Homo sapiens: one gene and its partners. The protein of the gene in region 1 interacts with the protein of each later gene in a pairwise test. Each region holds a gene or a part of one and is shown in the gene's direction. Other genes may lie near its edges.

Evidence for each region.
Region 2: the proteins of PMP22 (region 1) and MS4A7 interact in binary tests that used the Homo sapiens proteins (3 or more experiments, as listed by UniProt).
Region 3: the proteins of PMP22 (region 1) and CLDN18 interact in binary tests that used the Homo sapiens proteins (3 or more experiments, as listed by UniProt).
Region 4: the proteins of PMP22 (region 1) and EDA interact in binary tests that used the Homo sapiens proteins (3 or more experiments, as listed by UniProt).

What each region holds. Positions count from the first base shown.
Region 1 is NC_000017.11:15,255,122-15,262,326, reverse strand, and holds part of PMP22 (peripheral myelin protein 22), read left to right. Parts: intron 1-1,191; exon of another isoform or gene 1,192-1,368; intron 1,369-1,506; exon of another isoform or gene 1,507-1,565; 5' UTR 1,566-1,599; coding exon 1,600-1,677; intron 1,678-3,133; coding exon 3,134-3,233; intron 3,234-7,205. UniProt on the Homo sapiens protein: Might be involved in growth regulation, and in myelinization in the peripheral nervous system.
Region 2 is NC_000011.10:60,373,546-60,381,726, forward strand, and holds the start of MS4A7 (membrane-spanning 4-domains subfamily A member 7), read left to right. Parts: upstream 1-4,986; 5' UTR 4,987-5,119; intron 5,120-8,181. UniProt on the Homo sapiens protein: May be involved in signal transduction as a component of a multimeric receptor complex.
Region 3 is NC_000003.12:138,005,095-138,013,228, forward strand, and holds the start of CLDN18 (claudin-18), read left to right. Parts: upstream 1-5,070; 5' UTR 5,071-5,131; coding exon 5,132-5,351; intron 5,352-8,134. UniProt on the Homo sapiens protein: Involved in alveolar fluid homeostasis via regulation of alveolar epithelial tight junction composition and therefore ion transport and solute permeability, potentially via downstream regulation of the actin cytoskeleton organization and beta-2-adrenergic signaling.
Region 4 is NC_000023.11:70,025,018-70,032,222, forward strand, and holds part of EDA (ectodysplasin-A), read left to right. Parts: intron 1-2,839; coding exon 2,840-3,019; intron 3,020-4,486; coding exon 4,487-4,521; intron 4,522-5,451; coding exon 5,452-5,503; intron 5,504-7,205. UniProt on the Homo sapiens protein: Cytokine which is involved in epithelial-mesenchymal signaling during morphogenesis of ectodermal organs. Functions as a ligand activating the DEATH-domain containing receptors EDAR and EDA2R. May also play a role in cell adhesion.

The sequences.
Region 1 (7,205 bases):
CTCCCTGGGGCTTCTGTTTAGGGGCACAGGGTCCCCTGTGTGTCCTGTTTCCCTCCAATGGGTCTTGGAGTAATACAACGAGGAGAGCCTTTATGGTCTATAAGACCTTACAGGGCAAGGGTGATGGTGCTGGTGTCTGGATAGCGGATAAGGGCGGCCCAGTTCTCGCCTTGCTGAAGAGGCGTTGACTCTGGGACACACTGGCAAAACAGTCCCTGTGGCGGACATCCCGAGAGTGTTGGACTCCTGTGGTTCCCCAGTTCCCAGCCTCCTGCCATCGGCTTAATTCAAACCCTCTGGGAGTCATCAGAAATCCTTGTTTATTTCTTCCAGTGCATTCCAGAGTTTCTTTGAATGTGATGCTTGTGGAGAGGAACAGAGGGGCCTGGGATTGGGTACTTTCCAAACTGGGTTATTGAAACGTTGTCTCCCTGGCCCAAGACTCTGCCTAAAATGGTCCCCAGAGTCTCAGCCAGATCTTTCACAGCCATGCATGTCCTCTAACAGGTCATCCCAGCCTTCAGTTCCCCCAAAGTTTAAAATGAGGGGCGAGGACCGCATTACTTGGGATAAATGTCCTGCCGGCTCTGACCGGCTGAAATTCTCGGACTCAGCCTTTTACCCTCTGTCTCTCTCTCCCGTCCGCTGGACATCTACTCCCTTCGGTCCAGGCTCCTGGGCTCCTGTCCCACCGCACCCAGACCGGAGCTCAGGCTTGTTGGGGTTCGTGTCCTGGCTTTGAGTGCCTGGGGTGCAGACTGGACCCCTAGGCGAGCACGTGGGTCTAGCGCAAGAGCAGAATGCCCCCTGACCCCAGGGGCTGCCTGGGGAAGCGCGCGGTGGACGGGAAGCGCAGGGTCCGGGCAACCCTCTCGAGCCATTCTTTTCTTTCCACACTACTCTGGCTCTGCACCACCTCTCCGGAGCCGCCAGAGTCTGCGCGAGGCTGAGCTGGGGCCAGGACCGTTCCTCTACGCTGGCAGAGTTGGGTGGAAACTTGGAGACAAACGGAATGCGGAGAGCACTGGGGTCTGGGAAACCAGCCTCCTCGCCGCTGTCTCCCCCACCGCATGCCACGGCTGTCTCCAGGTCTCAGACGGAAATCTGGGCACCTACTCCCCTCACCCCTACCTCCACCCCATAGGGGAATTCACCATCTGAACCGGGGTCTCGGAGAACGTGACCTCTCACCTTCCAGGGAGGTCGCCGGGAGGTGCTTGGGGTGGGTGGAAGCGTGCAGTGGCCTCTGCTCATATTTTCTGGAAACCCCTCCGTTCCCTGGGTGGTTTTAGACGTGCGAACCGCTTGTTTTGTTTCCAAAAGCAAAAGATGTTCCGTTGCAGGCGGGCCCGGCTGGGCGCTGGGCACTGGGCGCTGGTCCTGCAGGCGGCTGCTGCCCCCTCTCGGCGGCAGGCGGCGCGAAGGCTCCTGACCCGCGCGGGCGGTCGGGCTGCGGGCGCTGGGCCAGGCCGGGCCTTCCGCTAGTGCGCGGGACCCTCCCTCTGCGCGCGCCTCCGTCGCTCGGCCCAGTGCGTTCGGCCTCACGCCCAGCGCTCTCCTCGCAGGCAGAAACTCCGCTGAGCAGAACTTGCCGCCAGAATGCTCCTCCTGTTGCTGAGTATCATCGTCCTCCACGTCGCGGTGCTGGTGCTGCTGTTCGTCTCCACGATCGTCAGCGTGAGTGCCTGGCGGGGAGGCTCCCTGCGCGGCCCGCCCTTCCCCATCTGGGTTCCCAGCCCGTGCTCCTGCTGGTTCAGGACTGTGTTATTTGCAGACAGTTGGAAGTCTCAGACGTCCCAGGGAAGTTTCTGGCAATCTGCCCCCTTCCAGTTGCTTTGAGAAAACGAGAGCAGATTCAGTGATAGGAACCAAGCGAGCGCTGGGCTGGGTTAGCTGCGCAGGTCTCTATTTAAGCCAAGTAACTTCAGAGCCGATCTAGGGTCCCCGACCTTCATTTGACAAGATTGTTTAACTTTTTTTTTTCTTGATGCAGCCTCGTTGAAGAAGAGGAGTATTTATGATTTTTTTTTCTCCAAACCATAGTCAGATGGGTGAATTAATTTATAAAACACCCTTTTAGGACTTGAAATTGGAAAGTTAAAATGGGCTTTTCTGGAAAAGAGTTCACAGGTCCCATGTCGGCTTTATGGCATGAACACAACACATTGTTAGTAAAGCTTCCACTGGTAGGAACAGGCCATCAGAGTAACTTCTGTTACAAAACTGTCCAGCCCATTAGATCTTAAAGTTATTTTCTTGGCGATGAAGATGAGCAGACATTCAGGCAGTTTTCCAGTGGTGGCTTTCACTTCTTAATTTAAGGCACATTGTAAGCATGATTTTCTTTTTCGTTTTCTTTTCTTTTCTTTTCTTTTTTTTTTTTTTTTTGAGATGGAGTCTCCAGCCTGTCACCCGGGCTGGAGTGCAGTGCCATGATCTTGGCTTACTGCAACCTCTGCCTTCCGGGTTCAAGCCATTCTCCTGCCTCAGCCTGGGATTACAGGTGCCCGCCACCACGCCTGGCTAATTTTTTTTTTTTTTGTATTTTTAGTAGAGACGGGGTTTCACTATGTTGGCCAGGCTTGTCTCAAACTCCTGACCTCATGATCCGCCCACCTCTGCCTCCCAAAGTGCTGGGATTACAGGTGTGAGCCACCGTGCCCGGCCTGTAAGCATGATTTTCTAGTCTCTGTGAGAAATAATTATGTTGGGGATTTGTGACTTAGTTTAACATTTACAAGCATCTTCACAGTATCTCCATTGTGCCTGGTGATGATGATATCAGACTGATAGGAGCTATAAACAAGGAAATAGACTGAGAGAGGCGGGCTTGGGGAATGATCCCGAGATGCTGGGAGGAGAGAAGGCTTGAATGCAGGTGTCTAAGGTTGAGTTCATGGCTCCTTCTACTATAGTAAACATCTCTGCACATAATCGTTTCTGTGTGCATGTGGAACTTCTCCATTTACAAGGTGCTTTTAAGTCATAAAACGTTGGCTCTTACCATGCAGGGGTGGGCGGTGTGGCTAGGTGGATGCGGGTGCTTTTCGCCATCCCTGGGCCTTTCTCCTTCCCCTTTTCCTTCACTCCTCCCTCCCTCCCTGACTCAGGATATCTATCTGATTCTCTCTAGCAATGGATCGTGGGCAATGGACACGCAACTGATCTCTGGCAGAACTGTAGCACCTCTTCCTCAGGAAATGTCCACCACTGTTTCTCATCATCACCAAACGGTGAGGCTGGTTTTGTGCTCCATGAGCTTGTCCTCAGACGCCTGTAACACGTTTCTCAGCCCAGAGCTGGAAACGCTTATTGGAAGACACAAGCCAGAATGTCGTTGCTGGGGTGGGGTGGGATGTGACAGGGAGCCATGAGTCCAGGGAAAATGGGAGGGGTGGTGATCTCGCTGGGGAAGCTGAGATCCTGGGCATCATTGTGATTCACTCTACCTAGAGACATGCCCTTAGTGCCCTCCTGATCACTTAGGATAATGCTTTTTGTGATTGAAAAAAATATCGACCTGGGAGCTGTGAAGGTGGTATGATAGCTAAGCCTTTGGCAGACCCCCTTGGGACATTGGATCAAACGTGTATCTTTGGTTTGGTGGCTGTCTCTATTCAGAAATGTCCTGCCCCTTTCTGCTGCAGTGACAGTGGGGCTAGCTCACTGCACCGTCAGTTACATGGACACAAGACTGGCTGCCTTTCCAGGTCTTGGGCCTCAGTGATGCCACCTAGCATCAAAACCTTTGAATGTTTCCTTGTTGCAAGATGGGGACTTGAAGCTATTTGCAAAACCCTAAGCTAAGCCTTGGGGTCCTTAATCCAGAAGATCGTATTTCTCCTCTGTCCTCAGCATCTTTGCTTGTGAGATATGGAAGCCAGGCTTCATGAGGGTCAAATTAAGGGATAATTGGCAGCAGAAGCACCAACTAGGTACCCAAGGCACCCAGAGGGAAAGGAACACCCAGCCAGGAGCCCTGTGTGTTTGGATGCAGACAGGTGGAGGTAAACAGGATGAGCTGTTTTGGTGGCTGGGTAGGCCATAGCGATTGATGTTAAGAGCCCGTGGACCTGGATCCACATGATCTTTTGTTCCAGAAGATGTGTCCTCAGGCTGGAAGGACCTAGAGATACAGCAGAGCTTTCCTAACATCCTGGGTTTAAAAGGCCACGGAAATACAGCTTTAAATGTTGCTGGAGCTACTCATAGATCCAGTATATATGTTCAAGATGCTACACCAGACGAGAGAAACCAGTTTAGATCCAGTTCAGTAAAACAGGCAGTGAAGTGGCCTTTGGTCCTGGCTTTGCATAATCCAGTTGCTTTGCTGGACTTTCCCTCTTACAGCTCAGTACCCAGTAATACCCAAGCATGTCCCCAGCTGAAGCATTATAAACCAAATTCCTTGAACCACAGTACAAATAGAAACTGCTAAAATAATAATTTGGTAATTTACATGGAGAAGATACGCAAGGAGTAGAAAACCCTGCTTTATGTTTTTACCTTCTGGGTTGGGGAGGGAGCAGAGAAAAGGTCCCAGTCCTATTGGAGTGAGAACAGTGCTTAATCTTGTCTCTGAGTGTGTGAAAGGCATTGAATTAAAGCCATCCCAGAAATTACGTGGTGGGTTTGCATGGTGAGTTGGCAACTGAGTAAATGAAATACTCATGAGTGCCTGAGAATGTGACCGTAGCACTGCTTGTCCCCAAAGCCACAGCATCCGGTTTCTCCCCCTTTAGGGTCTGGCTGAAGTTCCCGGAGCACTCCGGATGGGAGTCTCCGTACTCGCTACTGACACCTGGTGGTTACAAGTAGTGACTCAGCCCGAAAAGGGCAGGCTTTGGTGCTCACAGGCGCCATCCCCAAGTGGCATCTGGCCACGCGGCTTGGCACAGAATCCTGGACTCTTGGGCCCGGAAGGGGGCAGTTTTGGCAGGCGTGTTAAAACCCGGCGAAGTTTCAGCAGAAACGAGGCGGCAGAGGAGTTGCTAAGTTGTGCTTAAACCATCTGCAGGAAAGAAAGCAATATTGACCTGTAGCATGTTACAGATTGACATTTGGTGTCTTCTGCCGTTGGAAATAGCTGTCAGTTGGTGCTAGAAGCAGATCTCAAAGAGGCACTAGGGTTATTTTAATCAGGAAACTTCTTATCTCTCAACTTGTTCCTTCTGTGCCAAGCTCATGTTCTTGAGTTCATTTACAATGCCTCCTTAGTGTGGGTTTCAAATCTGCCTCGTTGCTTTCCGTGAGGACCCCAGAGTGTCTGTTTTCCACATCTCCCTTCTCAGCTCTCACAATCAGGGCATTTTGAAAACATCTGGACACTGCACCTGAACATGCTGGGTTTGTTTTCACGCCACTCAGGCTTAATCTAAATTTGAAATTTCCATTTACACTTCCCCAGTAGTGGTTATCTCTGCCGCTATCTTCCCCAACGTGGCAGCACTTGCTACGACTTCAGCCTTAAGTGGCGAATCCTCCAGGGCCTCTTTGATTGAGTTTAACAATTGTGGCTGCAGACAATAAGCTGAAAAAAATGTGTACTTTTTAAAACATTATACTGTCTTTACAAATGAACTATGCTCATTGCGAACCATTTAACTTGTCTGTATTTGCTCTTAGAAAGTATATTTGAAAAAAAATACTTGTTAAGTAATCAAAAGTAATTTGTTATTGACATCGATTTGTGAAGAATATGTTGCAAGTGTGAAAAAATAAATAGTGGTGCAATCTCGGCTGACTACAACCTCCACCTCCTGGGTTCAAGCGATTTTCCTGCCTCAGCCTCCCGAGTAGCTGGGATTATAGGCGCCCAACACCACGCCTGGCTAATTTTTGTATTTTTAGTAGAGAGGGGTTTCATCATGTTGGGCAGGCTGGTCTCGAACTCCTGACCTCAGGAGATCCACCCACCTCACCTCCCAAAGTGCTGGGATTAGAGGTGTGAGCCACTGCGCCATGTGACTTGGTATTTTTTTCTGAAAGGACTCATTTTTCTGGTGCATGACCATGACACTTCACCTCTCTCTGGGGGTTGCCACTCATGTTGTTTTCTACATGAATGGGGCCTCCTGGCATCGTGCCATGAGGCAGTCTAACATCTAGGTTGTGTAGTTTGAAAGAGACACACCAGATCTTGCCCCCAGGCTACATCTTAATATTAGAAATAGTTTTAGATTTTTAACTAACTGACTTTGACTCCGCCTGCCTTCTCGTTTTTCTAAATGTGTTTGTATACTTTCTGGCACCCCCTCCTTATCTGCCTCGTGTGGGCAGAGGTAAGAGAGGCTTAGTGTGGGGATATTCGTTATGATATTGTATCCAGTGCCTCTCCGGCCCAGGGAATACAAGGATCTGGAATGCATGGGCCTTGCCTTGATGGTCCCGAGCCTGGTCGAAGAGTCAGGAGATAGATATGGAAGGGTGAATCACTCCCTTGGAAGGCAGAGCAGGCCAGGTGCCCAAAGGGAGGCAGGCAGACAGCGTCTGAGTTCAGGGAGGAAGCGGATGGGAAATCTCTGGTGGGAGGTAGAATCTGATCCATCCTCCAAAGGATGGGCAGGATTTAAGTCAATACAGGCAACGGGGAGGAGAATATTCCCTGTGACCTAAGGTAAGGGTAGAACAAGGCAGGGGATGGGGTAGACTGGTTGGCTAGTGTTCTGGTTAGGATTAGGATTGATTGTGTATAAGAGAACATCTTCAAATGATAGGGGCTTAAGTAAGATCATTTATTTTTCTCTCTTTTCAAAGAAGTCTGGAAGTAGGTAGCCTGAGAGAGGTATGGAGGTTCCATGAAATTGTCAGAGATGCAGACACTTTCTAGCTCATTTCTTTGCCATCTCTTGGGTTTGGCTGTCATCTTCAGGAAACAAAAGGCTGCTAGAGCTCCAGCCATCTCATCCATGATTCAAGCAGTAGGGTGGAGAAAGGAGGTGGGGAAGAATGAATCTCCTTTTCTTTTAATGAAATGTGACATGGTCACACCTACACCTATTTACAAGAGAGGCTGAGAAATATAGTCATTCGGCCTTGGGGGAAGCATGGCTTTTCAAATCATAGAAACCTGGCAGCAAATACCTCTCTGTAAGCCTGGTGTGGAATACTTTCCTTGAGGGTTTGACCATCCCCTCCCATACCCAATCATACTCTTTTGCAATAGCTCAGTTGGGCCCTATGCAGTTCCATAAGTCCCAGTTATT
Region 2 (8,181 bases), on another chromosome or scaffold:
AATAATTCCATCAACATATTGATATGGGAGAGGGGCAGGGAAGTGCTAAGTAGAGAAGGGCAGGGTCCCTGGCGAGGTTCCACCCTCGGCCTTTGCCCACAAACCCAGGTGAGGACAGGCACTCCTGTTTTCATGCCAAATGTTGCATTTCCAAGCCAGCCATGCCCCTCCTCCTGTGCCTATAAAAACCCTGATACCCTAGTGGGTATACACACACAAGTGGCTGGATGTCAAGAGGAACACACTGGCAGAAGAACACACCAACAGTTGCTGGCAGACCATCGATGGCAGAACAAAGCAGATACCAAAGGAAATTCAGCTGAGGGTGGTTGGAGGAGAGCCAGGCTGCTGAGCAGCCCTACTCCAGAGAAGACCACCTTCCCACTCCATCCCCGTTCTGGCTCCCTGTCCATCTGTTGATAACTACTATCACCACTCAATAAAACCTTGCACTCACTCTCCAAGCCCACATATGATCTGATTTTTCTGGGACACTTGGGCAAGAACCCTGGGATACAGAAAGCCCTCTGTCCTTGCGATAAGGTAGAGGGTCTAACTGAGCTCATTAAAGCAAGGTGCCTGCGGACGGCTAAGCTGAAAGAGCACATTGTAACATACACCCATTTGGGCTTCGGGAGCTGTAAACACTCAACCCTAGATGCTGCCATGGAGTCGGAGCCCACGCTCCCCATGACCTGCCCGTCTGCATGCTTCCCTTAGGGGTTTGAGCTGCGGGGCACCAAAGAAGTGAGCCACACCCCCATCACGCACCCTGCAAGGGGGATAAGGGAAAACTCCCCTCGTTTCAATATGTTAAAGCTTATTCACCCCATGAGAGCCATTTGGTTGGTAGGCTATTAATTATTGCCTCAATTTCAGAGCCTGTTATTGGTCTATTCAGGGATTCAACTTCTTCCTGGTTTAGTCTTGGGAGGGTGCATGTGTCCAGGAATTTATCCATTTCTTCTAGATTTTCTAGTTTATTTGTGTAGAGGTGTTTATAGTATTTTCTGATGGTAGTTTGTATTTCTGTGGGATTGGTGGTGATATTCCCTTTATCATTTTTTATTGCTTCTATTTGATTCTTCTCTCTTTTCTTCTTTATTAGTCTTGCTAGCAGTCTATCAATTTTGTTGATCTTTTCAGAAAACCAGCTCCTGGATTCATTAATTTTTTGAAGAGTTTTTTGTGTCTCTATCTCCTTCAGTTCTGCTCTGATCTTAGTTATTTCTTGCCTTCTGCTAGCTTTTGAATGTGTTTGCTCTTGCTTCTCTAGTTCTTTTAATTGTGATGTTAGGGTGTCAATTTTAGATCTTTCCTGCTTTCTCTTGTGGGTATTTAGTGCTATAAATTTCCCTCTACACACTGCTTTAAATGTGTCCCAGAGATTCTGGTATGTTGTGTCTTTGTTCTCGTTGGTTTCAAAGAACATCTTTATTTCTGCCTTCATTTCTTTATGTACGCAGTAGTCATTCAGGAGCAGGTTGTTCAGTTTCCATGTAGTTGAGTGGTTTTGAGTCAGTTTCTTAATCCTGAGTAAAATGCTATTCTTAACATCAGTTCTGTTCCATTGGTCTATTCACCTTGTTACTAGGCTTATTACTAGGACTATGTAGTATGCTTCCTCACTGTTCTATTTGAACATTCTAGGAGAATGAAAACACCATAGAGGAAGGTGGTTTTTTCTGTTCTGTCCATTGATGCAATCCAAGCACCTAGAACACAGCCTGGCACAGAAGAAGCACTCAAACTGTGGTATTTCAATGAAAAGTGAGGAATATTTTTCATGTGGAATTTTTTAAAGGAATGTTGTGCCCTACACCTTTTCAGTAAGGAGATTTTCTGTGAAGTACTACGCGAGGCCTGCTGTGTGCATGGCGAGATCAGCAGAGGCAGAGACCAAGAGAGGCAGAAACCTGGCAGAGCTGCTGAGGATGGTGTAGAAAGAGACTCCCCCATGCTTAGTCATCCCATCATGCCCATTGTCATGTGTAGCCTCCAGTTATACAAAGCTAGAGATGCTCAGCCTCATCCCCATTTGAGATAATTGCATTCTTTTGCCCTATTCATCATCACTGAATGGTGAGTCCCAGCAATTCTGATATCAAGAGCACCAGGAAATAACCATTTGTTTGTATTTCACTTGGAAGGTAGGGTCTCACACCAGGTTTGGGGATTTACTGTTCAAGTCCAGATGACCAGTAAAGCAAGTTCCTGGAAGTAATAATATAGCAGTTAAGAGCACAGTCCCAGCCAGGCACAGTGGCTCACGCCTGTAATCCCAGCACTTTGGGAGGCTGAGGCGAGCAGATCACGAGGTCAGGAGTCGAGACCATCCTGGCTAACACAGTGAAACCCCGTCTCTACTAAAAATATAAAAAATTAAACAGGCGTTGTGGCGGGCGCCTGTAGTCCCGGCTACTTGGGAGGCTGAGGCAGGAGGATGGCGTGACCCCGGGAGGCGGAGCTTGCAGTGAGCAGAGATCCCGCCACTGCACCCCAGCCTGAGTAACAGAGCAAGACTCCGTCAAAAAAAAAAAAAAAAAAAACGATCACAGAGCACAGTCCCTGAATTAAGATTACCTGGATTCAAATCTAGACTTCATTACTTTCTAGGGTGTGTGACAGGGTAAGTTACTTAACCTCTCTGTAATTTAGGTTATCAGCCAAAAGACAGAAACCTTCTGTTATTTTAGCAGAGAATACTTGCTAGAAAGAGTCATTACCTGTGTATTAAAGAACTGCAAAGGCATAAAGAAAACACTGAAATAATACAGACATAGAAACTGCATGAATCAGCCACAGCCCAGTCACTACTAACTCCCTAAGCAATCCCTGGCCTTTAGTTTCCCCACCTGTAAAATGCTGAAGTTGGGGGGAAAAATCGTTTCACTTTCATTCCGGTGGCGTGATACGAGATTCTAAGAAACAGGGAGAAAATTCCGTGAGTGGAGCCAATAACCAAGTCAAACATCAGGGGGGTCTATGAACACTGCTCCAAGGAATCTCTCTCTGGATAACCAGACCTTGTGCCCTAGCCCCAGCCCGTCATCTCCACTGCTAGAGAAAAAAAATACAGTTAGTCTGTCCAAGGCTGTTAGAGTCCTCCAACATATAAGACGCATTTCCATTTTACTAGCTTCATGGTCTGCTTGGGGTGGGGATGGCGGGGAGATCGTATCCTTGAAGTAGGCACTAGGACTGTGAGTCACTTGCCTGTCTAGAGCACCAGGACTGTTTGCAAAGGGCTGAGGAGATTTCCATCAATGGAAAAGAGCATGAATTTAGAGTAAACATAGATTACACTTAGAGATCAGAGATCAATCTAGAGATAAAATACACTTTTCTCTAAAGGGGGTGGGAGAAGATGTTGGACAAGAAATACCAGATTTTCTTAATGGTTCATTTATGTCAGGCTCTATGGTGGGGACTTTTATGTTATTTGACTTAATCCTCACAACAATTCTGAAAAATCTTTTTTCAAATTTTATGAGAAAGTGAACTGGATATTTAACTGATTTTCTCACGAATTCCTTCTGAGGCTCAGAAGTGTGAAAGAAGCCCAAATGACCAAGGTTCTTTAACAATTTGGTCAAAACAGGTCATAGACCCAGAGGAAGGTCTGGATCCTGGAAGTTTTCTTAAGCAAAGACAGTGCTTGTTGTGGATATGAAGATGTTGACTAAGCTGGGCACAGTGGCTCACACCTGTAATCCCAGCTTTGGGAGGCCAAGGCAGGTGGATCACCTGAGATCAGGAGTTCGAGACCAGCCTGACCAACATGGTGAAATCCTGTCTCTAGTAAAAATACAAAAATTAGACAGGCATGGTGGTGGGCACCCATAGTCCCAGCTACTGGGGAGGCTGAGGCAGGAGAATCACTTGAACCTGGGAGGTGGAGGTTACAGTGAGCTGAGACTGCACCATTGCACTCCAGCCTGAGCAACAAGAGCAAAAAACTCCATCTCAAAAAAAAAAAAAGATGTTGACCAAATGGCAGACTCTTGCCATGAAGCAAGCCCAGACCTCAGTGCCAAGAGATGTGAATTAGATTCCTGCCTCTTCCACAGACTAGACATGTGACTGGGGGCAGATTCCTTCAGCAATATCACCTCATTTGGAGAAGAACTGGACTAAAATACCCTCCAAGTAGTTTATGAGTTATTTAAATCTCCCAGGCTTAGGTTTGCTCCTCTCTTAGGGGATAGCCTTGCCACCCTTCAGGAAATGGAGACTGTATATGGAGCATGTTGTGCCGCCAGCTGCTGCATGTCCCAGAGCCATCTTAAACCCTACCCTTCTGAACAATGGCTAGTCTACAAGAAGCCTTAAAAGGGATGTGAAAGTGGCAACAGTGTCCCCTCAACAACAAATACTTCCCCAAATATGAGCTTGTGTGGAGCCTGATGACTCTGCCTCTGAGGCCAATCCACTGGCATCTTTCCCAAGATGTGCCTGGACTTCCCTGAGCATGAGGCCAAAGATGGAGAATGGAAACACCCAAAAGAAGTAACAAGGAGACACGGAATTTTCCACAGGTTGCTTTCAGCTTACCAAGAGCCTGGAAAGTGAGAGAATAGATTCTCCAAAATTCAAAACTAACATTACTATTATCAATATTTATTGTCTACTTTTTGTAAACTCTTTGCATCTTTTTTCTTTAATTCTCCCAACACCCACAGAGTGGAATTATTATTATCCATCCACCATTTATTTAATAGACAAGAAAACTCAGGCTAAGCAAAACTAGATGACTTAAATAATTCTATGTAGGAGTAGGGAAAATGAATTTTAACTGGGACCGTACAAATCACTAGTCTGCACAAAGGTCTTTTTCTCATGTGTCACTTCTATCTTGTGTCATTTTGCCAGACCTCAGAATTTAGAAAGAGGAAGCAGAGGCACTTTTTATATATCAACTGTCTGTAACTACAGCAAAATTCACATCCTGTGTAATCATAAATACTGCTCTAAGAAAGGGACAGGAAGTCTCAGAGGCTGGAGAGCAGAGCACCAAGATCGTTCTGGCAGGAACAGCCAGTGGGAGGTTCCAGCTGAGCGCTCCCCAGAGGTGAGCTGATCCCCAGCCACAGCACACAGGACCAGGCTGCGAGAACAGGTAGACACCTTGGTTTAGATCATGACTTTTGGGGAAGATTGTGTGCTTTTGAAAAGACAGCCAGGGAATTGGATTATCATCCTGTCTCTGATTCTGACCACCTGTGTGAGTTGGAGCGTCAGCTCAGTCCCCTTTTTGGGTCTCAGTTTACTCACTTGTCAAATAAGAAAATTGGGTAAAACCATTCTTAGGTTTCCCTCATTGAGGTGATTTTCCTCAATGTTCTGCATTCTCCTGGTGTGTCACTCAGTCTTACAGAGTCTACTCTCAACAAATACTGTGCAATTAGACTGAATCTTGCATTAGAACCCCATGGTCCTACTCTAATTCTGTAATACAGAAAATTGCTGGGCAGAGCTGTTGACCTCCATGTCATGATTTATCTTCAAAGCACGGATTTTAGAGCTGTCTTGAAAGCTGTGGGTCCCTCCAGTCTATCTCCTCAAGGCGAATGTGGAAGGACAAAGCATCCTCTCAGACTGTGGTGTTTGGAGATGATAGCATCAGTCTGGAGACTTTTGTGAAACATAAAGAATCTTGGTTATATAGGATTCCTTCTAAAAGTAGCAACGTGTATCTAAATTCAAGTGTCATAGATTTAAATGTAATAATTCCACTTCCATACATCACTGTGAGATAATTAAATGCAGGAGGTATCACAAAAGTGCAAAGATGTTCATTATTGCATTGTTCATAGTGGCAAAAAGAAAAAATAGAAACCACCTAAATAGTCATGAACATGTGATTGATTAAATGAATCTAGAGACCTCCATTTATTTAAATATACCATTTGGCTTTTTGGTTGTAGTAAAATATGCTTAAAATAATTGTAGCCTTTTAACCATGTGTTTTTTTGTTGTTTTTTGTTTGTTTGTTTGTTTGTTTTTTAATTGAGAAAGAGTTTTGCTCAGTCACCCAGGCTAGAGTGCGTGATCTCGGCTTACTGCAACCACTGTCTTCCAGGTTCAAGCGATTCTCCCATCTCAGCCTCCTGAGTAGCTGGGATTACAGGCACTCACCATCATGCCTGGCTAATTTTTGTATTTTTTTAGTAGAGACGGGGTTTCACCATGTTGGCCACGCTGGTCTTGAATTCCTGACCTCAGGTGATCTGCCCGCCTCGGCCTCCCAAAGTGCTAGGATTACAGGCATGAGCCGCTGCACCCAGCCTTAACCATTTTTAGGTGTACAGTTCAGTGGCATTAAGCACATTCACACCATTGTGCAACCATCACCACCACCCAACTCCAGAACTTTCTTGTCTTCCCAAACTGGAACTCCGTGCCCATTAAACAATAGCTTTCCATTCCCCTCTCCCGCCAGCCCCTGGCAACCACCATTCTACTTTCAGTGAATTTGACTCTTCTAGGTGCCTCACATAAGTAGAATCATACAATATTTGTCCTTTTGTGACTGGATTATTTCACTTGCCATATTGTCTTCAAGGTTCATCCATGTTGTGCCATGTATCAGAATCTATCATTTGCTTTTAAATTTAGGCTTTTTATTATTTCTATTCATCGGTCAAAGATGTCTACAGAATAATGTTGAGTACAAAAAGAACAGTTATAAAATGGCATGGATAGAATGACTATTTCCGTAGAATTGTGAATGTCTGTGAACATATATAAAGAGGAGAGAGATAAAGTGACAGATGGGAAGAGAGAATGTAAAGAATATGTGCATAGGAAACAAGAGTGATCGGGTGGCAGTTGAAAGTTAAGGAGCTAATTTGTTTTCTTCTTCAAACTGTATTCCCTTGTAATGGTGGTACTTTATGCACTCTTTCAAACAGAACAAACAGTTAAGAAATAACAAAGGAAAATAAATGTTCATGGTATCAGATAGGCTATAGCCTGAAAGTATCAATTAAACTTTCGAGTCCTAGCTTCAGGCTGAGAATCAAGCATTTTCTGCAGTCCTTAGGTATGAGATTCGAAAAATAAAGAAAGGAACCCAGAACTCAGGAGGCTGGTGACGAAGACTAGTAGGAAGGAGTCTAGTTGGTATATTTGGGCTATTGAGCCACACAGAGCAAGGTAAAAGCCAAGTTTCTACAACATGAAAGCAAGTTGGGAAAAAGAAATCTTCAACCTATATTCCCTAAGATCAGCAATGTCCCTGGGAGAGGATATGGAACTGATGAGTGGCAGCCAATGCTTCAACAATAGGGGAGGAAGAATAGAGAGGATGAGAATCAGTTGTAGCTAGCCGGGCAAGAACAAACCTACAGGGATATAGAAGAGCTCTGGTGTTAGATGGCCTGTGCCCAAATCTTGCCTCCACTACCTGCTAGATAAGCAATCTTGCACAAGCTATTTCACCTCTCCAAGCCTCATTTTTCTTATCTTCAAAGTTCAGCACCCATCTCTGAGACTGCAGATTAAATGAGACTGTCACAAAGCTCTTAATAGAATGCCACATTCATAGTACGTGCCCAATCAATGTTAGCAATGATTATCATTTTATCATGAACTACTGTTTGATTCTGGAACCTAGAATTTCTCTAAGCCTGACACTTTTTCTCCTTCTCTGGCTTTAAAGATGTGCTGGAAGGCTCACCCTGACTCCACTGCAGGGATTCAGCTTCAACATTATTCCCCTCATAGGACATGTAACCTCACCCACACTTCTACCCAGATTTCAAAATTCCAAGAAATGAAAACTATCTCCTTAAACAAAGAGAACTTTAGGTTTAATAATTCTTCAGATAAAGTATCTCATGCCCGGAGAGCATGAGAAACTAGACTAAGGCACAGATCTAGGAGTAGAAATAAAATGGAGGTCCAAACATGGATCGACTATTATGGAACACCTGATAAAACTCAGAGAGTTACAACAAAAGACACTCACGTGTGTCATTCAAATCCTCACAAGAGTCCTTCAGGATAGTGTCATTATCCTTATTTTACAGATAAGGAAACTGGGGATGAATGAGGGAAAGTATCCTGCCTACGGCCAGCTCATCAATATCAGAACTGGGCTTCCAATGAATATTAGATAAAACTGATATGTTTTGGGAGTTTATCACATGCCTCCCCCTATGCTGAGTCCATTATATG
Region 3 (8,134 bases), on another chromosome or scaffold:
TAAACTGATAGAAAAAGTGCTAAAATTCTAGTAAATCAATGAGGAAGGAATACAAACTGACAATTCAAGAAAAGAACAAAAATCAAATGCTTCATACAAACTTGTTGGGTTTTTTGTTTTTTTTCTTTTCTATTTTTGATGATGAATATTTTTTATTATTATTATACTTTAAGTTCTGGGATACATGTGCAGAACGTGCAGGTTTGTTACATAGGTATACATGTGCCATAGTGGTTTGCTGCACCCATTAACCATCTACATTAGGTATTTCTCCTAATGCTATCCCTCCCCGTGCCACCCACCCCCCTAACAGGCCCAGGTGTGTGATGTTCCCCTCCCTGTGCCCATATGTTCTCATTGTTCAACTCCCACTTACGAGTGAGAACATGAGGTGTTTGGTTTTCTGCTCCTGTGTTAGTTTGCTGAGAATGGTTGTTTCTAGCTTCATCCATGTCCCTGCAAAGGACATGAACTCATATTCGTTTTTTTCAAAAAGGCTCAAACTCAGTAATTAAAGAGATGCAAGTTAAAACAAGTAATCATATACATATATAACTTACCAAATTCACAATGTAGACTAGGATGTAAAGAGATAAGAACTTTCAAACACTGCTGTTAGGATAAAATTCATAGAAAGCAATATGGTTGTGTATAAAAAAAGATTTTTTAAAACTTCACAGTTTTTGACAACTTAATTTCACTCCTAGGAATCTATCCTAAAAGAGTCATCAGAAATGCTGACAAAGAGTTATATGTAAGATGTTCATCATAACATTGCCTTTTATTCAAAAAAATGGGGGAAGGTACAATCTAACTATATAAAAATAAGTGAATAATAGCACTTCTATATAATGAAATACTAACACACTCATATTAAATGATGTTTACAAGAGCTTTGGTGAAACTAATACAATTAAGTGAAAAGAGCAAAACATCAAACTATATTATCCTTTAATTATGTAAAAAAATACATACAGATAATTGATAAGAAGGAAGTATGCCAAATATTTTGTCTAGGGCTTAAAATTGTGAGCAATTTGTTCAAATTCTCTCCAAATTTTCTATTATGAACACCAAAAGGTGAAATTAAAAATTAGGGATATATGTGGTAATATTTTTGAAGAAAAAATTAATAGATGTGTCAATTATTTTTCTCACTAGTATATTCATTTTATTTCTTCCTAATTCCTAGCTATAATATTTTCTATTGTTATTTATGCCACCATTTTTGCCTAATTACCATAGACAGTGTTATAAAAAGTGGTGGAAATGTTTTCTCCAATGGCAGTAAAATAATATAAGCTCTTGGAAACTTACAACCTGAAATGACACTGCCAGGGCCGTATTTAAACCTGAATGCAGGGATGATTTCCCCTAGGAAGTCAGCAAAAATTCAGCTCCATTTTAAAGGTGATTAAACAAAGTTTACCAACCCCATTATTGTTAAACAGAATCAGACCTGGACTTATCTGGTAGAGATACATTGATATGTTTCAATAAAGCCTATTGCCATAAATGAGAAAGTCATATTTTCCTCTGCAGACCCCCATTCATTTTTTGGCAGATACGGCTAAAATAGTAGTCTGCTCAGAGCCCAGAAAACTTACCAGGAAGTGAAAAATCCTATCTTCCAGGTGTTTTAAAACACATCAGTATTTATTTCACACAGAAGAAGTGTGTAGATTTACAATTTCACTCCTCTCATTCAGTATTCTGCCTAGGTAGAGATAGTCTTAGTTTATCCTTTAAAATTAACTTTTTCTATTTTCAAAAAAGTGTCACTGTCACCATTTCAGCCAAGAAAGAAAATTTAATTCCTTATTATCTGAATAACATTTTTCCCTATTTTGAAACTCTGCATGAAAACATTTGCATAGGGAAACTGGGGGGGGAATTGCCATAGATGAAAAATAGATAACTTTAATCAACAATTTTTTTATTTTTCCATCTTCAATCTATGTTTTTGGTGGTATTCTAACACATGTATATGTATTGTCGGGGGAAGGTTAGACAAATGTCATAAATTGAACATCTGAAAATCAAACCAATAGAGCTTTTTAAGAATAAAAGGATACAATTTGACCTAGCAATCCCATTACTGGGTATATACCCAAAGGAATATAAACCATTCTACTATAAAAGCACATGCACACATATGTTTATTGCAGCACGATTTATAATAGCAGAGATGTGGAACCAACCCAAATGCCCATCAATGATAGACTGGATAAAATGTGGTACATATACACCATAGAATACTATGCAGCCATAAAAAGGAATGAGATCATATCCTTTGCAGGAACATGGATGAAGCTAGAAGCCATCATCCTCAGCAAACTAACACAGAAACAGAAAACTATACACCACATGTTCTCACTCATAAGTGGGAGCTGAACAATGAGAACACATGGACACAGGGAGGGGAACAACATATACTGGGGCCTGTCGGGGGTCGGGGGGGTGAGGGGAGGGAACCTAGATGATGGGTCAATAGGTGCAGCAAACCACCATGGCACATGTATACCTATGTAACAAACCTGCACGTTCTGCACATGTATCCTAGAACTTAAAGTAAAATAAATTTTTTAAATGAAATAAATTTTTAAAATGAGGATTAAAAAGCCTGCCTGTTGGTTGAAATAAAAGTAAGATAGACTCTGTCTATGGAAACAGTGGTAGAATCATTCCTGAATTATTCCAACAACAGTTTTCAACCTAATTGGTCAATCTATGCCCACCAGCAGAAACCAGTGTCACTTCTAACTGTTCCCTTCCCTCCTTTTAGAATTGGCCTTGTAACAACTCAAGGGACACACTGCCATCAACATTCCTTCACTGTAGATCATGTAACTGTTGCTTACCCTCTTATTTTAGGCTTTCTGGCTCATGCTTCACTAGAAACACTGATCACAGAACCTAAAGTAAGGTGTGCAGTGAAGGGGAGTGTTGCCTCCATTCAAATTAGAGGTAGTTCTTCCCTATTTGCTTTCTGTGTTTGCTGGGAATAATGCAGTGGGAGCAGAGGCTGGGTGCACCCAAGATAACAAAATGTCCAGACACAGAGGCTCGTTTCCTGGAGAACCTGTAAAGACCTATAAAGGTTAAAGATTGGAGTATGTATGTGGGGGGGGAGTGTGGGGGTGTGTGGGGGTGTGTGTGGGTGTGTGTGTATGTTTCAGGGCCTTGAGGTCCAGATTTTGGAGAGTGTCATTAAAATGTCTCCGGAGGGCTGGGCACAGTGGCTCACGCCTGCAATCCTGGCACTTTGGGAGGCCGAGGCAGGCAGATCATTTGAGGTCAGGAGTTCGAGGCCAGCCTGACCAACATGGTGAAACCCCATCTCTACTAAAATACAAAAATTAGCTGGGTGTGGTGGCAGGCGCCTGTAATCTCAGCTAGTCAGGAGGCTGAGGCAGGAGAATCGCTTGAACCCAGGAGGTGGAGGTTGCAGTGAGCCAAGATTGCGCCACTGCACTCCAGCCTGGGCGACAGAGTGAGACTCCCTCTCAAAATAAATAAATAAATAAATAAAAACAAAATATATCTGGAAGCCAGGCACAGTGAGTCACGCCTGTAATCCCAGCACTTTGGGAAGCCAAGATAAGCAGATCACTTGAGCTCAGGAATTCGAGCCCAGCGTAAGCAACATGGTGAAACCCTGTCTCTACTAAAAACATAAAAATTAGCCGGGTGTGGTGGTATGCATGTATAGTTCCAAATACTCTGGAGGCTGAGGCATGAGAATTGCTTGAACCCAGGAGGCAGAATTTGCAGTGACCCCGATGACAACACTGCACTCCAGTCTGGGCAACAGAGCAAGACTCCATCTCAAAAAATTTTTAAAAAGTCTCTGGATTCAGAGGCCAGACATACCTGGCCCCCATATCCGTCAACCAATTCTCTAGCAAAATTTAGTTGTATAGACAAAACATAACACCTGATGTCTTCAGCCAAGTCTCTCTACTGTGATTATACAATTCCTAATATTTTGACCAATTCTAGTGAAAACTTTTCTGCAAAATGTAGAAGATAGTGTATGAGATCTGAAAAGGCTCTGGAGTGTTCTAGTTTAGATCTCACATGTTGTGGATGAAGAACCTGTGACCTACAAGGGCTTAGGAGTTTGCCCCCAACCTGCCCAGCACACGACAAGTTAGGGGCAGCATCAGGAGCAGATCCTAAGCCTCTCCGTGACCAGGCCAAGGACTTCAGCCCAGCTAACCCTGGTCCCTCCTCTGGCCTTTGTGGGACCTCCTGTGTCAGCCACAGAGTCCTCATGTGGTTCTTGTGGCACGAGTGAAAGCATGACATGGAAATCAACGGGGTCCCTGGCTTCCTCTCATCCCAGTTCCAATGCTTATGGACCAAGAGCATAGATCTAGGATTTGGCTTCGTGTTCTCAAAAGTGGGGACAATTTTGCCTGCCCCTGCTGCTCCATATGGAAACAGAGAAAGAGCGCTGGACTGGAAGCTGAGGTGGGAGCCCCACCCCTGCCGTTTTTAGAGTATCTGTGGTTCCAGGCACTGGGACAAGTCCCTTAACTTATCTGTACTTTTCTTGACTCACCCCCAAAAAATGGGGATAATAGTGCCTGCCCTACCCATTTCTGTAAGATCAAAATGGAAAGATGTAAGTGAAAAAAGTCGTTCATGAGTTGTGAGGAGAAAATGTGAAAAGTCTGGTTTAAGACAGAGCACGGTGGGTGCTTCCCAGGGGCCATCTTAAGCGAGGTCAGCCAAAGTGGTCTGCAGTCACGTTCCCCGTGGTGGGGACACGTCAGCCTTTTCTCCAGATGGCGGCGCTCTCCGGAGGAGCCGGAGCTGGAGGGAGGCCGGTCTGGCCCGGAGCAGGGAGTCCTTCTGCTCCCTGGCACGGCTCTGCGCTGAACCCACCCGGCCTGCGGAGAGCAGACAAGTGCCTCTTGGGCCCGCTTCTCTAACAAATGTAAAAATAATGCCCTTGAACCAGGAGCGAAACTGAGCTATCTAAGGAAAACACTGTGAGCAAATACTGAGAGCCTAGGGAAACCATCTGATTAGAAGAGCTCCCCTCAGGAGCGCGTTAGCTTCACACCTTCGGCAGCAGGAGGGCGGCAGCTTCTCGCAGGCGGCAGGGCGGGCGGCCAGGATCATGTCCACCACCACATGCCAAGTGGTGGCGTTCCTCCTGTCCATCCTGGGGCTGGCCGGCTGCATCGCGGCCACCGGGATGGACATGTGGAGCACCCAGGACCTGTACGACAACCCCGTCACCTCCGTGTTCCAGTACGAAGGGCTCTGGAGGAGCTGCGTGAGGCAGAGTTCAGGCTTCACCGAATGCAGGCCCTATTTCACCATCCTGGGACTTCCAGGTAGGCACCGTGCACCCCGGGGTAGAGCCAGGTGAACCAGGTGAGCAGGGAAGGGGGCGTTTGCGTTAAGCCCCACTCCCACCTCTGGGTGAGGACCCTGGCAGCTCTGGCTCAGAATGAAAGGTGTGAATAAAAGGAGAAGCTGGCTCGTGTCTAATAGGGCAACAGTCATGCAGGAGAAAATGGGAGGGTTAATACTCAAGGCGAAGGAATCGCTAGTGAGGAGGCAGGCCTCAAGAAGAATGGGTCTATTGTAAGGGTATGTTCATGATACCTGGAATAAACTCGTGTTTCTCAAGGAGAAAATAAATTGTGTGCATTACTTGCATGTGGCTTGCTCCTGCCTGCACATACATGGGAGCAGGGAAGCAGGATGCTGAGTATTTTGTTATATCTGGAAAAGTTTATTGAGAGCTAATTTAATTTTCTTTCCATTTCAATTAAATTTTTCAAAGTTGGAGTCTCTGTGGGTGCCAAAAAGAATATTGCCATTAAATTATAAATATCCTTTTGCTGCATTTGTATTAAGAATATCTTGTATACTGTCCTAAAAATCAATGTATATCAAAATATAATTACAGAATTATAATTATATTATGTCAGAATATAAATATAATTATAAATGTGACATCCTTTCACCCCTAAAGATGAAATAAATTAAACCCCTGCTTTTAATATAGATAATTACTTCAAATATGCATCATAGCAACTTTGCATTCTGAATAATATGGGAGCTCTATTTGTATTTTTAAAATGCAAACAAGAAAATAATAGCTCTAGCTAATTAGTGGCTCTAAGGGGTGGCCAAGATGTGAGTGTGATGGAGAAAGGAGAACAATGTCTCTGAAACAAATACCTTTTATAAACAAGTAGATGGAAATAAATTTGCAAGAAATTGTGAAGAGGCTGTAGAGCCCTTGAAACTGAATTGAATTGTGAAAAGCAATTCAACTAATCCAAGTTCATTTTCAGAAAGAAATAGAAGATGGGTGTCAGAGTAGAAGAATTTGATTATTTATTCCATTTTTTGGAAGCCACTTATTGCAGGACCAACAGGATGACTGACTCCGGGGAAAGACCTGCTTAGGGAAGCAAGGGAGGTAGAACCTGGCCAAAAGAAAGAGAACCAGACTGAGGAGGGATTATGCTGTAGTGGGAGGGGAGAGGTGAGATGCAGGAAATGCCACACAGAGTGTTGAGTTGCTAGTTATGTCTAATTTTAACTATCATATAAAGAAAAAATATTGTCCTCATATTCAAAATTAAGGCATGATGTCTTATGACTTCATGTTCAATAACCTCTCCCCAGGGCCCCACTACATATTATCAATCTCTTGCTCACTGTGTATCACAGTCTCCATACATGGGGCTCCTGAATATTCCCACTCTCCTAAATGGGCAAACCCCATTGCGTCCACTGTGACTTGTCACTCCTATTCTGTCAACGGATCTTATCTCCATGACACCCTCTCAGAATAGCTCCACCTCTCCCCCTTGATGGAACAAGATTATCTTCCCTGCTTTCCTGCTAAGGTCAACCTCTCCTGCTAAGGTCAACCTCCCCAGCAGGGCTCTGAAGGCCTCATGCCACCTGTCTGGGATCATGCCCTGTTGGTCAGCCCCTCTCCTCCTTGCCTCTTTCATCTCTTCTCCTCACTTATGCATATGGCCTCCTTCCTGGGGAAATCTGTTGATCCTGATCATTGTCAAGTTCTGTCTCTCTCCTGGGTCACTGACAAACCAAATTAAAAGACTAAGTTTTTCCACTACCTCTCACCCTTAACCTTTCTCAGTCTGGTTTCTATCCTTCATCTCTATAGAATGTTTGCTTTTTTGACCATAGCAGAGGATGAAGGGGAGTATTTCAGTCACCAACTCCTAGTTCTCAGTTCTCATCTCCTTAGACATTTCAAAACCCAAACAACTTCCACGGTTCCCCATTCCCAGCTTAACTAGGTGCACACATAACAGCCTGACACCAAGCCTTCCTAACCCCTCACCTACCTTCCTTGGCAGTCTCTTACTCCCCCATCCTGTTTCTTCTGTCCTTTCAGTATACCTTGGACTTGGTCCTGGACATCCATTGCTCCTGCTCCCCTGAATTCCCCCCTCCACCACCCCAACTGTCCTCTCACAAATCTTCCTCCAAACCTCCTCAAGCCCCCAAATTGAATAAAGATTCCACAAGTCTCTGTACCAAACCCAGAGCATTCTCATAGCATTGAGCATATTCACCCCGCGTGACACTGCTCTCAAATCTGAGAAGCATTTATTGCATACCTACAAAGAGTACACAACACAAAACTGGCCTTGTCGGCACCGTAAATTCCAGCAGAGGGGACAGGCATGTGTGTGAATATCAAAGCAAAGGCAACACATGTCATGGGGCTTTGACACAAGTGTTTGGAGCCCAGGAAGAAAGTGGTTATTCAGTAGGAAGAGTCAGGAGGGGAGGAAATCAGGACAGTTTTGCTAAGGGAGTTCTGTTTGAGTCTGAACTTTAGCTTACTAACTTGGTTATTTGTACATTTGTGTCATTCAGCTTCTATGTGGTGTTTCCCTTCAGCTGGATAAGAATTATTTCCCCATTTCCCAGAAAAGCGCCTGGTAGAGTGAGTATTTAGCAAAGGATTGATAAACTAAGTTGAATTAAATAGTACGAATAGTTCATTTTAAGTGTTTATGCAAGCCATTGAACTAAAAACAGGTTAAGGTCTTCCCCAAAAAGGACAGTAAATCATTTTTGTACTATAAATTTTTTGTTATTATGGCTCCATATATAG
Region 4 (7,205 bases), on another chromosome or scaffold:
TTCTCTTCTCTGGGCCCAACTTTGTGTAAGTATGCAAGTGTGAGAAGCTCACTTGCCTAACCCTTGTTGCAGAGAAGCAGAGGACCAGCTGCAGAACTGGAACAAAGCAGGAGTTTTTTTTTTTCTCAAATGCCTTCTAACATTTTCATAAGTGAACATTCTCTGTTTTCACTGCAACCATTAGTCTCTTGGACTGGAGGAGTTTCTGGCTCTAATTCTTCCAAAATTACATTAGCAATTACAGGAGACTCACATTCTTGAAGGTGAAGTTTGTGCTACCCACAGAACACCCTCTAGCTTGAAAATCACTGTTAGGCTTGGAAATCTTGGAACACAGGACAGCCTAATATGCACCAACTTCTGTGTCTGTGCCACCTAGAAAATAAGGAGGGAGAAGCAAACCTTACAACCAGGCTAAGAAAGCTTCCTGACTGCAAGGGGTAAGCCACCCCTCCTTATAGAAACTCAGTCTCATGAGGAAACAGAGAAATCATTGAGGCCAAGCTCCTTGTTTCACAGATGTAGAAACTAAGGCTCAAGGAGAGGAAGGGATTTGCCCAAAGTGTGTCTGTGGCAGAGCTGGGGCTTACATCCTTATCTCCTGAGTACAGATTTTGTGTTCTTTCCACTACACTAGCTGGAATTGAAACTTGGGCTCTGAATAAGCCTGATTTGGAAGCTGCCCAAATCTGAAAGGAGATGGTTTTCCTGTTCAGCATCTTGAAATTGGCTAGATCTAGAAACGGGGCAGATCCAATCTTTTGCTGCTAAGTGCAGAGAAACCTCTAAAGCTCATGCCTCTAGGTCTTTAAGGCTACAGGGACTCTTCTGGGAGAGATGTTCTCTGGACCTTCCTTTCCTTCCTTTCTGAGGAAGAGACCCCACGATGACCCCATGGTTTCATTCCAAATGCAGATGTGGTTAGACATAGACAAATGGCCTCTTGAGTGGCATTGCCATGAGGATTGGGTTTCTTGGCCATGAGGCATTGTTCTTAAGGGAGGACCTGATAAATCAGGACAAGATTCTCCTGCCTAAGTGTCTGGGGAGCAAGAAGTCAGAGTCAGTAAGAAGGTTTTTAGTGAGACTAGAGAAGGTTGTATTTAAAACTAAGAAACTACCTCAGGTGAAGACATTGTGATGAAGTCTGGAAACAGGCTTCCATTCCTGAAACTTTCCATAAAATTGTGAGAAGGTGGTGAAGGAAGGAAGAAGACCTGTGCCTACATGTAGTCTTTGAGTGGAGCTGCACAGAGCAGAGGAAGTCAACAGGAAGAGCTGGAGGTTTTGGTTCAAGACCACAGTTATGACTCATTTAAGATAACTACATCCTGGTGGGAATGTTGAAAGGACTGGAATATGAAATAGGAGGGTCGAGATTGTTCTAGAAGGATAGCAAGGAGGAAAGGGGGAAGAGTTGGTGGGCATGATTAATAATACATTTGAGAATGGGACTTCTGAGGAAAGACTTTGGGAAGCTGGATTATTTAGCCTATAGAAATAGGGGTTGGTGGGTAACTTAATTTCTTTTCATATATAAGGATTATTATGTATATGTATATTCTTCTCTGTCTACACAAATAGAATAAGAGCTTAAACTGCCACAAGAGGGACATCATTTAATATACCAGAGAACTTCCTAACAGTGAGCAGTGAGGGGCAATAAACATTGGAACATGTTACTATGGAGTTTGCAGAATTTCCTTTCCCAGAGATCTTTTAAAATAGAGTTTACAGAGGTCAGCTGAGAGAGTGAAACTTGCTGCCTCCTCCTCAGCTCCCTCTACTCTCTGTCTCTGCTTCTTTCCTGTTTCTCAATATCTCTCTCTCTCCCTCCTCCTCTTTCCGTGCCCCTCTTCCTCCTTCTCCATTCCCCCATCTCCAAAACTCCTTCCCATTCCTCATTCCCGACTAGCACTGTCCCCATCCCAACCCCCATTTCCTGTACATCCTGACTCCTGGAGGAACCTTCCTGGAGCTGATACTGTTCCTAAGGCCAGGCTGTACGGCTTCCTCTTGTTATCGACATCAAGTCCACCAAACTGGGCAGTAAACATAAAAGCTCCACATTCTTCAACAATAGCCCTTTCTAAAAAGAACCACAAAGTGACCCATAGGTCTAATCACTTGGTAGAGAAATTCTCATCCTTTGGACTCAGCTGAAATGTAACCTCCTTTTTGAAACCTTCTCTGACCTCTTCAGCATTTGGTCCCTACCCACTAAGGTAGCACTTCTACTATCCCATGACTGTGTCTGTTTCCCCACAGACACAGACTGATCTCCTGGAGGGCCACTTATTTCTATATGCTCAAACCTAGCTTTGTAAATGCATATTCACAAAAGGGAGTGGGGGGAGGGGAGAGAAAGCATAAGACAGACGGAGACAGGGAGACAGAGATGTGTGATAAAGGTATCCAACTCTTTAGCAGGGCCTCCCAGAGAGCTGACTTTGTGTCCTCAGAAGTCTGTAGAACTCCTGACAGTACACTCATCACAGGAAATAACTACAAATGTAACACTGAGGCCAGGCGCGGTGGCTCACGCCTGTAATCCCAGCATTTTGGGAGGCTGAGGCAGGCAGATCACCCGAAGTCAGGAGTTTGAGACCAACCTGGCCGACATGGTGAAACCCCGTCTCTACTAAAAATACAAAAATTAGCAGGTCGCGGTGGCACGCGCCTGTAATCCCAGTTACTCCAGAGGCTGAGGCAGGAGAATCGCTTGAACCCGGGAGGTGGAGGTTGCAGTGAGCCGAGATCGTGCCACTGAACTCCAGCCTGGGCAACAGAGCAGGACTCCGTCTCAAAAAAAAAAGTAACACTGAATCCTATTTTTCAGGAAAGAAAGCAGGACCTCCTGGACCCAATGGCCCTCCAGGACCCCCAGGACCTCCAGGACCCCAGGGACCCCCAGGAATTCCAGGGATTCCTGGAATTCCAGGAACAACTGTTATGGGACCACCTGGTCCTCCAGGTCCTCCTGGTCCTCAAGGACCCCCTGGCCTCCAGGGACCTTCTGGTGAGTTCCCCTGTCTCTCCACCCCACCAGGTGCCTTTAAAGTACTTTAGGAGAGCAGGAGTGGGTGATCCTGAGAGCAGTTTCAAACGGTGGAGATGGGGTTGGTGTGCAATAAGGGATGCAGATCTCCTAGCCCAGTGTAAAACTAGGAATTGGACAAGCCAGTAGGGCCTGGCCTGCTCTAGCTTCTTATATCTACCAAACTGTCAAGGACAGGCCACCTGTTCTTGCCCCATCTCAACCCTTCTGTTACAAGCCCTCCCTGACTCTTGGCCTCCCTGTAGTGGACCAGTAAAACTCATATGAGCCAGAGACAGAGGCCCTGGTGGTTCACAGGAGTTCCAGTGGGGAATAGATGTAATCTTCTGTGATTCCCAGCATCTAGCTCCACATGCTGATGTTTGCATAGAAATAGGCTATGGAGTAGAAAGTTGAGGACTGAACAAAATGACAAGCCCTAGGATAGTTTCATCTTGTGAAGTCTGAAGTGCTTTTCCCATAGCAAGTAGTCACTAATGGTCAAGAAGTTAGAAACTTAAGAGTCACTCAGGCTGTGGATGAAGCAAACCCAGGCACCAAGGCTGTCCTGTCCGGGAACCAAGTGCTTCTTGCACTAGATCCTTACCCTACCACACTTGCCATTCAAATGTCATTTCATCCCTTTGCATCTTTCTCCTTAAGCCCTGAAGGGCATCCGAAAGGTATGAATGCAGATCCAAACCTGCCTAATTGGAGTTGACAAGAGTCAGACTGCCTGGGCTAATGTCAGTTGTTATTTCTTTCTCCTGCTCCTCACTCCCCTGCCCTGTATCTTGGGGCTTTAAAGAAATGGACCCTTACAGCTGATTTCTCCAGGGGCAAGAATTCTGCAGCAGGATTCAGATTCTTTAACTTGTACTTCACACAGGGCTCAGCAGTGTTACCATGGCCACAAGAGATGGAGTTAGAGATTTTTTTTCAACCAATCATTCCTTAAATATTGAGCACTTTCTGTATACAAAGAGATATATTGATACATGGTCCCTTTTCTTATAGAGTTTATCTCCTAGAGGAAGAGAGAACAAAGAAACAAGATATTTACAAATAGCAGTGGGCTCTATGAAGAAAATTAATAGAAAGGGAGCAAAACACTAGAGAAGCCAATGCCATTGCCTCAGGGTCACACAGTGATGGGAATGCTCTCTCATTGTTCTCCATGGGTGCCCGGTGGGGCTTGCCTTGGGCTAATATTGGCCAGAGGCAATACTCAGAAGTTTCCCTGCTGGGTGCTGGGCCCACTGAAGATGAAGGTCAGGGCAGGAAACAGAAGGGGTGCACTCTGACTCTTCCTCCAGCTCTGAGCCCTGGAGAATAAAGCTCAGACAGGGCTGGCTGCAGGGAGCATGGCTCACCACCACTAGCTGCTCAGGTGAGGGGAAAAGGAAGTCAAAAGATTATGCCCTCTGATTGTCCTATCCTATTTTGCAGGTGCTGCTGATAAAGCTGGAACTCGAGAAAACCAGGTTGGCTGGGGATTGCTCTCTTCCTGGGTAGGAGGGAAAGCCACAGGCTAGAGCCACCTTTAAATTAGCTTCTTATTAGATTTCCTGAGGCTTTATTTCATGAGAACACCCCGGAGATTCTGACGGTTTTCACTCACAGCCCCCTCCCATCTCTATGAATAGAAAAGCTTTGCCCCAGGGCATGTTTTTAGCTAAGGAAAGGGTGTCTTGCCAGGATCATTTTTCCTCATTCCACAGGAGACCCCAGGTTCACCATAGCCAGGCCCAGTAGTCAGCTGAAATAAGCTGCCAGTCAGACCTATTCACCTGAGCCTCCAACTCCCCAACCACCCCAGACACCTTGCCGGCTCTCAGACCACCTGGGATCCGGAGCTGAAGAGTTGAAGAGTATGTCCTTGAAAAACAGCCAACCAGCTCCAGGCCCAGCCTAGCCTGGGCGTCTGCCTTAATGGCCTGAAGAGCTCCTCCCAGTCTTTGAGCTTCCTAATCTGTCTCTATTGGCAGGTTCTACTGCCTTGCCTTGTCTCATCTCAGCCTCCCTTGCTACAGCTGTGTGGCCACAGTGATAAATCTACACAGCTGCACAGTGCTTGACGGCTTGCAGGGCAATTTTATATCCATCACCTCATTTGATCTTCAGACATCCCTGTGAGAGAGGCCAGACATTCTTATAATCCCCATTTTACAGTTAGGGAAATGAGGCTCAGAGGCATTACATTTGGTTGAGGTCACATAGCTAGGAAGCGGTAGAGCTACAAAATCATATTACCCTCTAGTAGAAATGTAGTCAGTAACATCCCAAGACAGGGGAGAGGGATCAGAATTGGATTACAATAGAAGACTAGAAACCAGGATGGAAACATGGGACTGGTGGCTGAGCAAGCAGCCATTACTCATAGTGACTACTCTCTATCCTTCTCATCCTGCCAGCCAGCTGTGGTGCATCTACAGGGCCAAGGGTCAGCAATTCAAGTCAAGAATGGTAAGAATCAAAATAGGCTCTCTCCCAAAGAGGAGCTTCTCCCCTGCCTCCTCCCCAGCCTCCAAATAATCACCCAGCCTAGTTCCTCCCAGGCCGCTGAGGTACCGTTGGCATACGAAGTCATTCTTTGCTCCATCATGCCCTCTACTGGCTGTCCTGAGCAATTGCTGGCATCAAGACCAGTTGCTACACCCAAATTGCTTTAGAATCACTGATGACGGAGCTGAAAGGGACTTGAGACATCATCTAGCCCAGGCATTCTCAGGGGATGGAGGTTATATCAGAGCCACCATGGAGATATGTGTAGTTAGATTAATATTTTCACAATACAAATTATAGAAAGTAAAACTATGTAAAATTAAATTTTTCTTGTCTGATCTACACAGGTGGGCAGACAGGCTGCATCTCTCAGGGAAGGTGGGGCATGTTAGAATCTCCAGGGAATTTAAGATGCTAGTGTCTATCAAAAAGGAGAACATGTTTAATGGGGTTAAGAAACACTGATTTGTTGTAATCCCTGCATTTAAAAGATGGGGAAACAGAGTCCCAGAGAGATTGGATAATACCATAATAAATCATGCTGTCTCATATTTGTACGATACTTTAGAGTTCTCAGCATACTTTCTTTGTCTTTAATTTCATTCAGTCCTCACAACCACCCTATGAGGTAGGTATGAGCTCCTTTTTACAAGACAGAAAGTGAAGTTCAGAGAGATTAATTAAGTTTCCCAATATTTCTTAGTCAAGTTAGTTTAGGAGCCAGGATTCAAAACTACATCTTTCTGACTCTTTCCTCTCCCCTGTGCTACTTCAGTGATATGTATGTACACTCCACTGAATGATTAGGTTCATTTTCTTCCCCCAAAGAAACATGAACATTCATGAAAGAACAGCACTTTGGAATAATGTCCAGTCCCCAGAGTGCACAAAGCCTAAAATGCGTGAACCCCCAGGAGCCTTGGGAAGCAGCAAGCTAGCCAAGATGCCAGATGCTTACAGAGCTTGGGGTGGAAGGGAGGGGTTGTGAGTACAGAAACGGTAAAGGAAGGTTAAAAAAAACAGCTACATGGGGACAGTTTCTAAGAACTCAGTCAGTCCTGAACTGGCTGTGCTGAGTTTCCTTAATGACTGTATTTAGCTACTTCCCTGACTGCCACCTCCATGTCTGACTTAGTAGCCTCAGAAGTGTAAATAGGAACACAATGGCACCAAAACCCAATTGGTCCTGCTGGGGACCCCAAGGCCCTGAGTGGGCCATGATCCCCACCTGTCCAGGGAGGCCAGAGACAGGCCAAAATAGATTTGTTTGGATATCTAGATGGATAGTGTTTATTCTGTGCTAGCAGCCACTGATTTTGCTCCCACTGCCACATAATAAGATTGTTTCCAGCCCCTCTGGGCCAATCCTCAGAGGTGGTCTGTGCTGACCTTTAGTACTACCAGAAGAAGTGATGGGGGTGGGGTGCAGTGACTCACACCTGTAATCCCAGCACTTTGGGAGGCCGAGGCTGGCGGATCACATGAGGCCAAAAGTTTGAGACCAGCCTGGCCAACATGGTGAAACCCCGTCTCCACAAAAAATACAAAAATTAGCTGGGCATAGTGGCACACACCTGTAATCCCAGCTGCTCGGGAGGCTGAGGCAGGAGAATCACTTGAACCCGGGAGGTGGAGGTTGCAGTGAGCCAAGATCACACCACTG